Regions from separate parts of the Homo sapiens genome. Here regions 2 and 3 are each linked to region 1. Evidence: fine-mapped expression QTL. A gene starts in region 1. Each other region holds a variant in brackets. All regions are shown on one strand. Distances are from middle to middle.

What was found. PIP is the estimated chance that this variant, and not a neighbour inherited with it, causes the effect. A credible set is the group of variants that fine-mapping cannot tell apart.
Region 2: its variant is the best candidate, but not a certain one, in a credible set for the expression of LDB1 in whole blood (Lepik 2017, PIP 0.89).
Region 3: its variant is the best candidate, but not a certain one, in a credible set for the expression of LDB1 in T cells (TOPMed, PIP 0.68).

What each region holds. Positions count from the first base shown.
Region 1 is chr10:102,119,425-102,122,180 of GRCh38, reverse strand. It overlaps LDB1 (LIM domain binding 1), which reads left to right and starts at 1,813. Exons shown (of 11, transcript NM_001113407.3): 1 at 1,813-2,095. The coding sequence starts at 2,071. It also overlaps a transcript of PPRC1 not described here. RefSeq lists enhancers at 1-423, 424-1,175, 1,176-1,927 and silencers at 1,424-1,553, 1,574-1,873, 1,934-2,013, 2,104-2,173.
Region 2 is chr10:102,160,240-102,162,995 of GRCh38, reverse strand. It overlaps NOLC1 (nucleolar and coiled-body phosphoprotein 1), which reads right to left. Exons shown (of 13, transcript NM_004741.5): 9 at 2,653-2,756; 10 at 1,903-2,544; 11 at 1,334-1,440; 12 at 1,071-1,163; 13 at 1-885. The coding sequence ends at 727. Among named protein-coding and RNA genes, the nearest start is that of NOLC1, 9.2 kb to the right of the region's middle. The variant C/T (reference allele first, on the strand shown) is at 1,468.
Region 3 is chr10:102,092,271-102,095,026 of GRCh38, reverse strand. No RefSeq gene overlaps it. Among named protein-coding and RNA genes, the nearest start is that of LDB1, 27 kb to the left of the region's middle. The variant G/A (reference allele first, on the strand shown) is at 1,237.

The sequences.
Region 1 (2,756 bases):
ACTCAGGCAGGGGATGCTGCCAAGGAAATACTTGTGTGAGTGTGGATGGCTTCAGTCAGGTCCTCTCTGCTCCTGGTGGGGGTGGAGATGGGGAAACCTGGGGGTGGGAGACTCCACAGTGTACAAGCTCCCCTATCCCCCATCCTAAGCACATGGTGGGGAGGGTCTCCATTCCTAGGCAGGCCTTCTTTTCAATCCCTGGACTCTGCACCGTTCCATCATTTCATGCTCCCTCAGCAAAAACCTAAGGTGGAGAGAAGAGGTCTCATAAACACTTTAAGCCTCCGCATTTGTAACCCTCCCCCAGCCAGTCAAGCCAGCTGTGCAGACTCTGAGCCAGAGTGAGGGAACCAAACAGCCTTCTCAACCAACACCCCTCTAAGTAACAAAGAGGAGAACCCCCTACCCAGTCAGGGCCAGACGCCCTAGGGAGGAGACACTAGTCCAAGTCTCCATCGTCTATCCCTGGAGCCCATACTGAAACTTAAGAAAGAAAAGCTAGCAGCTGGGGACCCCAGGAGGGAGGGGGTCAACTCTCTACTCCAGGCGGCTCCCCTCCCTTCCCTCCTCCTGGCTAATAGGTATTTCCTGTTTATGAGGCAGCTAAAGCTGAGCTTTTGGGAAGGGATGGAGATGGAGCCCCTCCCCTCCTAGGGCTGGGTTGGGGAGTCCTTGAAGTGTGACTGAAGGTTGGGAGGCTCCTCCCAGGGGAAGGAGTGTTCCTTACATTGACCATCCACATCATCTCCCATCCAACCCCCCACGGCCCACAGCCTCTGCCTCTCTGGGTTAGGGGGCACTGGAGGGGCCTGTTTCCTGTTCTCATCTCCGAAGCCCTCAAAGGACAGCAGCTTCCAGGCAGGGGGGTCGGAGGCGGTGGGGTTGGGCGGTTGGTACGGAGGTGAAGGCACCAAGGCTGGAGAAAGGGGGGAAGGGAAGAGAGTGTCTTGACTGATGCGTCAGTCTGCAAGAAGGAAGGATGGCCTCCTATCGCCCCTCCGTAATCCAATCTGGTGGTCATTCCGCAGCCCCCTCCCCCCAGCAAAACACAGATCCCAAGCCCTTAGGCGGAGGAGGGCGGGGACCCCACTTAATTAACCCTTTTAGTTCTAGTCCCAACTGGTTTCGCAGGCAAAGGAGGAGTGGTTAATTTAGGGAAGGGGTGAGTTGAGGGGTTGCTACAAGAATTAAGAGAATGCTTCTTTACCCATCCAGCCTAGGGTAGGGACGCGAAACAAGGGGCCTCCAGAAGAAGGCTGGCGTCTCAGCAGGGAGCACGGACAGGGGGTCTGCAGTCCCTTTTCCCTCCCGGAGCGCGGCCCGGGGTGGAGAGAGATACACCACACTGCCCACCCCGGCTCCGCCTCCCCCAGCCGCGGCTCCCGCTCCGGCTCAGCCAGACTCCCCATCCGGCGGCACCCGGAGGACGGACACCGAGCGCGCGGCTGCGCCTCCAAGCCCTCCCCTTCGCCCTCCCTCTCTGGGGTCTCTGCCTCCGTCTCCTTTTTTAAAAGCTGCGTCACATGCATGCCGTTCCCCGAGCGCTCCCAGCCCCTCGCCGCCCGCCCGCCGCGCGGCGCACGCACGTCGTCGCTTGCTGCGCGCTCTCCCGGGTCACTTTGACACGGCTCTCCCCTCCCACTAGCAGGACAATTAGCATATTAATAAAGCCCGGCCCTGCCCGGCTTGGGCTGGGGAGCCGGCGCCGGCGCGAGGGAGCGCGAGCGCGAGGGCGGAGAGGGGGGCGCTCGGCGACGGCGGCGGGAGCGCACAGACACGCACACGCACACGCGCACACACGCACACACGGACACACACTCCGCGGACTCACACCCGCGCGCACACACGCAGAGGCCGCTCGCCTTCCTGCCTGGCTTCCTTCCTGTCTGCTCCGCGCCTGACAGGCCCCTCGCCGCAGCCAGGGGCCGCCCGCACCGGGCCGAGGCCGGGCCGGGCCGGCGGCGAGCGCAGCGGGGGCCGCGGGCGGCGGCGGCGGCTCATGCCCGGCCTGTCCCCGCGAGGGGCGGGCACCGTGACTCGGCTGGGCCCCCAGAGGCGGGCGATGTGAAGATGTCAGTGGGCTGTGCCTGTCCTGGTGAGTGGGGCGTGCGGCCACTCGGCCCCTTCCTGCCCAGCCGTCCCTGCGGACCCCTCACCCCGTGTTTGGCGAGAACTTGTGTGGGGGGCGTCGATGGCATGGGGGAAGCCGGGGGCTGGAAGGGCTACGCGGGGCCTCAGGCTGGCGGGTAGCGTTTTCCCCAACTGTGTAAATGCGCAGCAGCCCAGAAACACGGGGAGGAGACGCTGGGGGTGGCTTATGTGTATGTTTTTTTGGGGGTAGGCTAATTGGGGAGAGGTTTGGGGGGGGCTGAAATTCTCAGAATTCCAGGTTGTTAGCCAATCAGAAGTGACTCTGGACTTTTGACCCCCCCCCTCAGGTCACCATAGAGTTGTGATTGGCTGGTTTGGGCTGCCCCCCCTTCCCTGCTGCCCATTGCCTCTTACCTATCCTGTGACATCCCCCCCATGCTGTTTCTGAGGACCCTGTTTGCAGGGAGGTATTGATTGCGGCCCATCTTGCCCCCCACCTTCAACTTTTCCTGCCTGTTGCCAGGGAAGGTTGGCCCTCCTGAGGCACCGGAGGTACTCCTAAGAGGTGCCAGATAATTGGACCCTTGGGTCTGGCATCTCCGCCCTAGTGGGAGGGCAGGCTAGGAAATAGAGTGATTTGTGGAGAGGTAAGCTGGGGGAGCAAT
Region 2 (2,756 bases), 41 kb before region 1:
TGCAAACATCGTGTAATGATAAAATTACAGAAAAAAATATATTCAGAATGACCCATGGCATTCACGCCATACCAGAATTTTGCCTGTAACAAAACAGAGAATTTTATCCCAAAAAGTAGGTTAGGTCCATGCTGGCTAAAAACTTCAGTCCCAGACCCAATAAATGAGGATGAAATACATAGTGCATGCTTAACAGACATTGCATATACATCAACAATTCTTTAATGCCCCTCTCTAGGGTTTTGAGGGAAGGAGGGATGAAATGTGGACATGTGCACTCACAAAGGCAGAATTTTCTTCCTATTATAAAAAGTCACACGTGACCCTTTACTATGTTTTGGGCAATAGCCAAGATTTTATCTGTGGGAATCCACCTTTGAAAATCACAACAAAAATCAATAGTAAGTGATTTAATATAAAATATACAAATTTCTCAGTATGAGGACTTTCACAGAAAAGGAAGGAGACAACAATGAAAATGAATTTTCTTAAAAAATAACATTCCCTTATTTTGTCCCTGCTACTCAACACTCAAAAACAAGTCTGTACAAAACTAGGAACACAGAAAAGGACCAGAGAGGATGTTACACTGTAAAGTCTTAGGACCTACTCTAAACTTCTGTCCTCATCAAGACCCTCACCTAGAGACCTGAGGGTTCCCAGGTCCACTGGAGAAAGTAAGTAGTCTCCGATCATCACCCTTGCTTCACCGAAGATGGCCTCAGGTCACTCGCTGTCAAACTTAATAGAATTGACCTGGACAGAGATTGAGCCTCCCCGGTAGCTGCCCCGCTTCTTCTTGGTTTTCTCATGCCGAAAGGACTTGCCTTTGGTGAACTTCAAAACCTGATTGGCTCGCTCTCCCCAGTCTCCGGCTGCACCTCGCTGGTAAGTAGAGAGGGAGATTAACACAGAGGAGGACCATGCTGGAGCCCTGTCACTTTATTCTTTCTACTCCCTGCTCAAGGAAACCTGAACCCAGAGAAGATTCCCACCAACCTGAACCAAGAATTGTCCTCTCTGACACTACCCATCCTCCCTCCCAAGAATGGCACAGATCTCTCTCTCACCTTGGCATCAAAGGAGTTGTCCGCAACTCGTGAATCCACCTCAATTTCCTCCTCCCTGACCCTTCGGAATGGGGATGATGCCCTTTTTTCTCCCTACAGAAGAATGAAGTAGGAAATTAAAGACAGAGTGGTCATGTAACAGTTCTCCTGAGTGATACACATGGGCACATGTACCAGGTCACGCCAGGCAGAGCTGTCAAGATGATCCTAGATTTTTCTACTTTTAAAGAGCTGGCTCCTGAGAAGAAAGTGAGACAACTTACTTTCTTCCTTTTTGGAAATGTGTTAGGGGTCTGAAGCTTTATCTTCTTGGCCTGAGGAGTCTCTGCCTCCTTGGCAGCCTCATTCTGCTTCCGCTTCTTTAATGAACCTACAAAACAAAAAGCCAGACTCAGGC[C/T]GAGTACAGTGGCTCACAACTGTAACCCCAGCATTTTGGGAGTCCAAGGTAGGAGGATCGCTTGAGCCCAGGAAATTCAGATCAGCCTGGGCAATATAGTGAGATTCTGTCTCTATAAAAAGTTAAAAAAATGAGCCAGACATGGTGGTGCATGCTTGTAGTCCCGGCTACTCAGGAGGCTGGGGTGGAAAGATCACCTGAGTCCATGAGGTTAAGGCTGCACAAGCCGTGATCATGCCATTGCACCCTGGTCTGGGTGACACAGTGAGACTCTAATAAAAAAAAAAAAAGGTAACCAGTTTCCTGTTCTTCCTCCCAGTTTCCACAACTGGAAGCCCAGTGGTGGGCCTCCTCTCACTACCCTACTCTCAAAGAGTATATCCCATCCTGATTTGGGGGGACAAAACCCAGAGGGCATGTTCATTGGGTACAGACCTGATTTGGAAACTACCACTGCCGCCTTTTTCTTTTCTTCTTCCTCCTCCTCACTGTTCTTAGCTGCTTTTCCATTCTGGGCAGTCAGTGCAGAGGTGCCATTGGCCTTGGGGGCTTGTGGTCTTGGAGAGCCCTTGCCCTTGAGCTTCTCTTCCTCTTCCTCACTGGAGTCATCAGAAGAAGAACTGTTGCTGCTCTCAGCCTTTCCTTTCTTTGCAGAGGCTGGCTTGGAAGGGGCTGCACCTCCTGCTACCTTCTGTGGCTTCTTCTTAACTGCAGACTTAGATGTCTTCTCTTCCTCCTCCTCACTGCTGGAGCTGTCTGAATCAGAGCTGCTGTCCCTACTACCCTGAGGAGCCTGCTTGGCAGGCAGAGATAGAGCTGCTTTGGCAGTCGCCTTGGGCTTAGTGGTGGCCACCATCTTCTTTGTCTTCTCCTCCTCACTGGAGCTGCTCTCTTCCTCACTGGAGCTGCTGTCAGCCTTTCTCGTCAGAAGCTTCTGGCCACCGCCCACAGGTTGCTTGGGGGCTGCAGCTGGCTTCACTGCAGGTGACTTGGTGGTGACAGCTGGCTTATTTGAAGAATTCTTGGTGGTACCAGCTGGCTTAGAAGGAGCTTCATCATCCTCAGAGCTGTCAGAGTCTAGACACAGAAGGGATGGAATCAACAGCTCCCCAAATTGGATTCAGGGGAGCCCTTAGCAGCTGCCTGAGAGCATCTCACTGAACTGAGGGCCTCCATATGCCTTACCTGAGCTGTCTGAAGAGCTCTCTGCTGCTTTCTTTGCTGGAGGTGGTTTAGTGGTTGCTTTAGAGACTACTGCCTTAGTTGGGGGTTTCTTCTCTTCTTCAGAA
Region 3 (2,756 bases), 27 kb after region 1:
AAATAGGTTTTGTTTTGTTTTTTAAAAGGCCCCTCAATAAATAAATGGGAGCCAGGCATGGTGGGTCATGCCTGTCGTCCCAGCCTTTTGAGGGGCTGAGGCAGGCGGATCACGTGAGGTCAGGAGTTCAAGACCAACCTGGCCAATATGATGAAACCCCGTCTCTAGTAAAAATAGAAAAAAATAGCTGGGCATGGTGGTACACACCTGTAATCCCAGCTACTCGGGAGGCTGAGGCAGGAGAATCGCTTGAACCCAGGAGGCAGAGGTTGCGGTGAGCTGAGATCACGTTACTGCACTCCAGCCTGGGCAACAGAGCGAGACTCCATCTCAACAATAACAACAAAAAATACAAAAATTAGCCGGACATGGTGGCAGGCGCTTGTAATCCCAGCTACTTGGGGGCTGAGACTGGAGATCGCTTGAACCCGGGACAGAGGTTGCAGTGAGCTGAGATTGTGCCACTGCACTTCAGCCTGAGCAACGGTGTGAGAATCTGTCTCAAAAACAAAACAAATAAAAATAAAAATGACAGCTGGGCGCAGTGGCTCACCCCTGTAATCCCAGCACTTTGGGAGGCTGAGGTGGGTGGATTACCTGAGGTCAGGAGTTCGAGACCAGCCTGGACAACATGGTGAAACCCCACCTCTACTAAAAATATAAAAACTAGCCGGGCATGGCCGGGCGTGGTGGCTCATGCCTGTAATCCCAGCACTTTGGGAGGCTGAGACGGGCAGATCACGAGGTCAGCAGATCGAGACCATCCTGGCTAACACAGTGAAACCCCGTCTCTACTAAAAATACAAAAAATTAGCCGGGCGTGGTGGTGGGCGCCTGTAGTCCCAGCTACTCGGGAGGCTGACACAGGAGAATGGCGTGAACTGGGGAGGCGGAGCTTGCAGTGAGCCGAGATGGCGCCACTGCACTCCAGCCTGGATAGAGCGAGACTCTGTCTCAAAAAAAGCACTAGCTGGGCATGGTGGTAGGTGCCTGTAATCCCAGCCACTCGGGAGGCTGAGGCACGAGAATTGCTTGAACCCAGGAGATGGAGGTTATAGTGAGCTGACACGGTGCCACTGCACTCCAGCCTCAGTGACAGAGTGAGACTCCATCTCAAAAAAGTAAAATGAAAATGACAATTCAGCTGGGCCAGGCAGCTCACGCCTGTAATCCCAGTACTTTGGGGAGTCTGAGGTGGTAGGATCACTTGAGTCCAGGAGCTGGGGGCCAGCCTGG[G/A]CAACATAATAAGACCCTGTCTCTACAAAAAAATACAACTATTAGACAAGCATGTAGTAATCAGCTACTCTAGAGGCTGAGGTGGGAGGATGCCTTGAGCCCAGGAGGTCAAGGTTGCAGTGAGCCAAGATCAGGCAAATGCACTCCAGCCTGGGCAACAGAGTGAGACCTTGTCAATAAATAAATAGATAAATAAAGTATACAATTCAGCAGCTTTTAGCGTATTCATAATGTTGTGCAACCATCACCACAATTGATTTTAAAACATTTTCATCACTTCCGAAAGAACACCTGTATCCGTTGGCAGTCATTCCACATTTTCCCCACTCTCTCAGCCCTAGGTAATCGTTAATCTATGTCTATAAGACATTTCATATACATGGAATCATACAATATATGACCTTTTGTGACTGGCCTCTATCTCTTAGCATGAGGTTTTCAAGACTCATCCATTTTGTAGCAAGTACCAGTATTTCTTTTCTTTTTTCTTTTTTTTTTTTTTTTTAAGGGGCAAGGTCTCACTATGTTGCCTAGGCTGGACTCAAACTCCTGGCACATGTCACTGCACCTGGCTTAATTTTTTTATTGCTCAATAATATTACATTATATGGATATACTACATTTTAGTTATCCTTTCTTTTTTTTTTTTTTTTTTTTTTTTTTTTTTTTTTTGAGACAGAGTCTTGCTGTCGCCCAGGCTGGAGTGCAGTGGCGCGATCTCGGCTCACTGCAAGCTCCGCCTCCCGGGTTCACGCCATTCTCTTGCCTCAGCCTCCCTAGTAGCTGGGACTACAGGCATCCACCACCACGGCCGGCTAATTTTTTGTATTTTTAGTAGAGACGGGGTTTCACTGTGTTTGCCAGGATGGTCTCGATCTCCTGACCTCGTGATCTGCCCGTCTCAGCCTCCCAAAGTGCTGGGATTACAGGCGTCAGCCACCGTGCCCGGCCCTATAGTTATCCTTTCATCAATTGATGGACATTTGTGTTACTTCCACTTTTTTGCTGTTATGAAATAGGCTGCTAGGTCAGGTGCAGTGGCTAGTGCCTGTAATGCCAGCACTTTGGAAGGCTGAGACAGGCAGATTACTTGAGACCAAGGAGATGGAGGTTGCGGTGAGCCGAGATCACACCATTGCACTCAAGCCTGGGCAACAAGAGTGAAACTCCATCTCAAAAAAAAAAAAAAAATCATACAAAGTGGCTTCAATTCTGTTAAAACTTGTGTGATAGGAAAAGGTGGATGGGTGGTAATAAGAAGATTGGTGGTAACAAGAAGATTGGGCTCTAGGCCGGGCGCGGTGGCTCACACCTGTAATCCCAGCACTTTCGGAGGCCAAGGTGGGCGGATCATGAGGTCAAGAGATCGAGACCATCCTGGCCAACATGGTGAAACCCCGTCTCTACTAAAAACACAAAAATTAGCTGGACGTGGTGGTGCCTGCCTATAGTCCCAGCTACTCCGGAGGCTGAGGCAGGGGAATCGCTTGAACCCGGGAGGCGGAGGTTGCAGTGAACTG